2 separate regions of the Homo sapiens genome follow, and region 1 is linked to region 2. Evidence: fine-mapped expression QTL. Tissue or cell type: whole blood. Region 2 holds a variant in brackets; the other region holds the start of a gene. All regions are shown on one strand. Distances are between the middles of the regions.

Region 1 (2,680 bases), 87 kb after region 2:
GCAAACTCTAAATCTGAGGCAGCCGTGAAGTCCCATGCCCTGAATCATCTCATCCTTAGCGTCATCAGCAAGAAGGGAGGACACTGAGAATCAAAGGTTTTATTTATTGAACTCGAGCATGAGACGCACATTAAAACTTCCCCACCACAGATGCAGAGCAAAAGTTGCTCTCAGGCCAGAAGAGACCATTTAAAAGCTCTCCGCCGGTTTCAGAACACAAATAAATTTCCCAATCCTCTGCAAAGACAGAACTGAAGAATTACTGGACAGCACGCCAGAGGCAGGGACCTGAGGGCAGGCCATCTTGCTATGCCGGGAGGAGACGGTCACTGTTGCTAAGGGTCATCCATCCTTAGTCTCGAAGAAATCTCTTCCTGATCTCTTCACCAACTCTCCCCACTACTAGAGAATTGAGCTACTCCCAAAGATGTAAGTAAACAGGAGACTGTTTACATCTCCTGTGGGTGGGAGAGGCCCCACCCACTCTATCCTAGGAGAGGGCAGTGAAAGAGGATAAGGCCCAGAGGGATAAGGGTGAGGGAGCATGGCAAGGAGAGGAGTTCAGATCAGGACAGGGAATGTAGGAGGGCAAGGAGTGAAGGGCACAACCCACAGCCTGGGAAAGAGAGGCATGAAACCCAGCGTGTCAGGTGGACGGATCATGGAATGGGGGGCCAGCGGAGGTTAAGGAAGGAGGGCCCAAGAGTAGGGGTGCGAAAAAGAGAAGAGGAGGAGGAGAAAGTGCGCGTGTGAAGAGTGTTAAGAAAACGACAGGACAGAGCGGGGAGGGGAAAAGCGGGCCGAGGGACAGGGTGAAAGGTGAGAAACGAGGGTATGAGGAAAGAGGGTCCGGGGCGCTGGGGAGTTGGGGAGACGATGGAGCGACGGGTAGAGCAGCTTGGGCCGAGCCGCGGGGGTGGAATCCAGACGCCGGGCGGGGGAGGGGGCGGCGGGGCGGCGGGACGGTGGGTGGGGGCCACCAGGCGGCGCCGGAGACCACCAAACTTTACAGCGAGCGAGCCTGCTTCCTGGAGGGAGTGCAGACAAGGACCAGGAGCGGGAGCCGAGCCTCGCGGCCCGGGGCACGGCGCCGCCCGCCCCTCCCCGGCAGTGCCTCCCGACCCCCTGCCCTCCGCTGGGACATGGCCTGAGGCCCCGCCCGCCGCCCGGGACTCCTCCCCCCCGCTGCCCCCGGACCCTCGCCCCAGGACCGCGGGGTCTCTTCCCGGCCCCGCCGCCCGCCCCGGCGAGAACAGGCCCGGCGGGCAAGGCGGCGGCGGACCGAGGGAGGCCTGGCCCGGCAGCGGGGAGAAGGGTGCGGCGCAGCCCGAGTTTCCCACCTTTTCTCCTGGCCCAGACGCGGCTGGGGCGGACGGGACCTCTCGCGCTCTGCCTCCTCCTCTTGCTTCATGGAGCCATGCGCCTGGGTGGGGGCTCCCGAGAGAAGCTGGCCTGCGGGCGGGCCGGACGCGCTGCGCGGACGGGGCGGGGCGAAGGAGGCCGGCGGGCGGAGGAGGAAGCGGCGGGGCGGCGGCGGCGGCGGCGGCCGGGAAGAACTAGAGGTATTCCCCGGGCGGCTGGAGGACTGAGTCGAGCCGGGACCCGAGTCCTCCGGTATCCCAGCAGCCACCGGAGGCAGTGAGGTAATGGAGGAAGAATGTAGGGAGTCCTCCAGTGGACCACACTCCTTCTAGCGAGCCGCGGAAACCATAGAGATCAGGGCTCAGCCGGAGGGCCGGCCCACTGCTGTCACGTGGCCTCCATCCGTGCGCTTTATTGGCTGGTGCTGGCTTTACGGGGTTGAATTTTGGACGCTGCCTGCCATTCGTGGGACCGAGTTTCAGGCAGCTGGAATAAAGAGAGACATCGGGGGAAAGCCGCGAGAAGGCCAGCGTCCCTGGCTGGGAGCAGAGCTAGCCGAGTAGGGCGCCCGGCTGTCAAAACTGGCCGGCGCAGTGCACGCTGGGCCGCCCCGGAGCGGTCGCAGAGCCCGTCGGGAGTCGTAGTCCGGGACGGGCCCGCAGCATTGTCCGCGACGCAGCTCGGGATCCGCGTCGGGTTGTCGGCCGGGTTGCTGCCAGGCACCGTCGAGCGTTAGCCACCCAGCATTGAGCTGCCAGCGGCTGTTCTCCCTAAGCACCCTCGCTCACGTCGCCTCGCCTCGCCTCGCCTGACCGGCCGCAGCCTTGGATACCAGCCTTAAATCGAGCCGACTACGGCCCAGCCCCGCCCGCGGCGAAGTGCGCGGGGTTCGGTGCCAGCCGCTCGCCCCTGGCCGGGCCAGCCTCTTGATGCACCGGGGACGGGCGCGCCCATCCGACTCTTCGAGGGGCGGCAGGGCCCCATCTGTGTCTTTCGCTCTCGAGCCCCCAGCTAGAGTTGGCTTCAGCGGAATACCTACTGTGCAGGATTATTCAACAAGCCGATTGATCACATTCTTCAGCTCTAGCAGTGCAAAGGCTTCACTGAAAAAGAACATTACAAATTTTTTTTGAAAGAAATTTGGGGGTAAATTTAATTTTAAATACTGATTTTTGATAACATTTGATCTTATGACAGCATTTGTATTTTTAATTACAGATAGGATTACACTAAAAGTCATTTCTGACCTGCTCCCTTACCCTTATGGCTAAAATAAACTGCTAGGCCCTGAAGCAAAGGCGAGCCATGTTCTAGAGCA
Region 2 (2,680 bases):
GCACATGAATGTCCATGAATGATCACCATGGCAGGGAAAATTTTCCTTGCAAATCACAAAATAATTAATGTAACCAGTTGATTCCTGATGGATGATTTTCCTATTTTATACCTTTTAGCTACAAAATATAACTGATAAATGTTAGCTCTCTCTCAAAGACATTAAACCAGGCCAGGCGCAGTGGCTCGTGTCTGTAATCCCAGAACTTTGGGAGGCTGAGGTAGGCAGATCATGAGGTCAGAAGTTCGATACCAGCCTGGCCAACATGGTGAAACCCCGTCTCTACTAAAAATACAAAAATTAGCTGGGCGTGGTGGCGCACACCTGTAATCCCAGCTACTTAGGAGGCTGAGGCAGGAGAATCACTTGAACCCAGGAGGCAGAGGTTGCAGTCAGCCAAGATCACACCACTGCACTCCACCCTGGGTGACAGAACAAGACTACGTCACACACAAAAAAAGATATTAAGCCAAAAAACCCCTCCAAGCTATATTATGAAATGTTTTAGTGGCTTTTTTTGTAAAAGTGGGAACACTAAACTGGTATTCAGGTGACCTGAATTCTGCCACTCTGTAATTATGAACAAATTTAATCTCTCCAGTGTTGTTTATCTTCAAATTAAAGGGTCTAGATTTGATGATCTCTAGAGGCAAAATAATTTCATAATTTCAAGATCACAAGCCAACAGGCCAGGCACGGTGGTTCAAGCCTGTAATCCCAACACTTCGGGAGGCTGAGGAAGGTGGATCACCCGAGCTCAGAAGTTCGAGACCAGTCTGGGCAACATGGCAAAACCCTGTCTCTACCAAAAACACAAAAACTTAGCCGGGCATGGTGGTACACAACTGTGGGTCCCAGCTACTCAGGGGGCTGAAGCAGGAGGACTGCTTGAGCCCAGGAAGTCGAGGTTCCAGTAAGCCAAGATGACACCACTGCACTTCAACCTGGTGACAGAGTGAGACCCCATCTCAAAAGATTATGTAGAAAGCAGGTAGGAAATTTCCAAAATTCCTTTCTTAAACCTTGCTTAACAAATGAATTTAAGCCGGGCGTGGTGGCTCATGTCTGTAATCCCAGCACTCTGGGAGGCC[G/A]AGGCAGGTGGATCACCTGAGATCAGGAGTTCAAGACCAGCCTGGCCAACATGGTGAAACCCTGTCTCTACTGAAAATACAAAATTTAGCCGGGCATGGTGGCACATGCCTGTAATCCCAGCTACCAGGGGGGCTGAGGCAGGAGGATCGCTTGAACCTGGGAAACAGAGGTTGCAGTGAGCCAAGATCGTGCCACTGCACTCCAGCCTAGGCAACAGGGCGAGACACCGTCGCAAAAAAAAAAAAAAAAAAAAAAAAAAAATGAATTTAAAAGCATTTAACAAAATAGGAAAAGACAATCATTCCCAAAGGAACAATCCTAAAGAGCTGGTTGGCCCTGAATATTTCAAATCTGTCAATAGCAAGATAAAATGATAAGCTTAAGCTTTTATGAGCCTCTTGATTTCAGAACTATGGTTCTCAGGTTCTAGTTCTACTATCTACACAGACCTAAAAGCCTAACCAGTTAACTAGTTCCTCAGTATATCTGGAATTTATGATGTCTTTTAATTACCTTATGACACATACCATCTTAACAGTTTGATATTTCCCTCCAAACAAGTCAGTTTAGATTTCAAAAAAAACAGTGTTATTAGAGATACGATGAACTGAAAGTTAAACAAATATCTAAAAAAGTCGTGAAAAAAAATTCACCAATGAAACCTGTCCTTAATTTTTACTTGAACCTCCCTCTACTAAGTAAAATTTAAGTTATTGAAAACTGCTTTTATTAGACCAAAACTAAAGCTTATAGCTTTCTTTTTTTTTTTTTAAGCCAGTCAAATTTAGCAGTTGGGGGTTGTATATCAACTTCAGTGACACTAATGTTAATGAGTTCTGATAACCCACTACCATCGGACCAGCCAAAAGCTTATAGCTTTCTAACCACAAGGTCAAACTCACTATAGCTGCTTTCTAATAAAAAAGTCAAACTCATATTCACATTTATACCAATGGAGGAGAATCTACATTCTCAAATGAGAAAAATCAGTTGCTTAACCAATTGCCAACTGCATTAAATACAGAGAATACATTCAGGACCTTGGGTTAGGCAAAGCTGCCTTAGATGTAATACCAATGCACAATAAACAAAAGAAAAAGTAGGTAAATTGGACATAATCAAAATTGGAAACTTCTTTGCTTCAATGACACCATAAAAAAATCAAAACACTGTCTTCCTACACATGACTTGGGAAAAAAAGTTAAAAAAAGGAAAACAAATCCACAAAAAGGGTAAAAATTTCTGCAAATCATGTATCCGATGAGACTTGCATCCAGAATACACGAAGAACTCTTAAAACTCAATAATAACAAGAAATAACCCAATTTCTTAAATGGGCAAAGAATGTGAATAGTTATTTCTCCAAAGAAGATATACAGGCTGGACACGGTGGCTCACGCCTGTAATCCCAGCACTTTGGGAGGCCAAGGCAGGTGGATCACTTGGGGTCAGGAGTTTAAGACCAGCCTGCGCAACATGGCGAAACCCCATATCTACTAAAAATACAAAAATTAGCCGGACATGGTGGCAGGCACCTGTAATCCCAGCTACTCAGGAGGCTGAAGCAGGAGAATCGCATCAATAGAAA

What was found. PIP is the estimated chance that this variant, and not a neighbour inherited with it, causes the effect.
Region 1: it holds the start of AMMECR1L, and the variant in region 2 is fine-mapped to the expression of AMMECR1L in whole blood (TOPMed, PIP above 0.99).

Annotation. Positions count from the first base shown.
Region 1 is chr2:127,884,470-127,887,149 of GRCh38, forward strand. It overlaps AMMECR1L (AMMECR1 like), which reads right to left and starts at 1,487. Exons shown (of 8, transcript NM_001199140.2): 1 at 1,341-1,487. It overlaps LOC107985944 (a long non-coding RNA gene), which reads left to right and starts at 2,649. Exons shown (of 2, transcript XR_001739707.2): 1 at 2,649-2,680. It also overlaps the pseudogene LOC107985803. RefSeq lists enhancers at 1,358-1,953, 1,738-1,817, 1,828-2,087 and silencers at 1,378-1,427, 1,438-1,607, 2,318-2,367.
Region 2 is chr2:127,797,043-127,799,722 of GRCh38, forward strand. The region is part of intron 1 of WDR33 (WD repeat domain 33); the gene reads right to left. It also overlaps the pseudogene RNY4P7. Among named protein-coding and RNA genes, the nearest start is that of WDR33, 13 kb to the right of the region's middle. The variant G/A (reference allele first, on the strand shown) is at 1,092.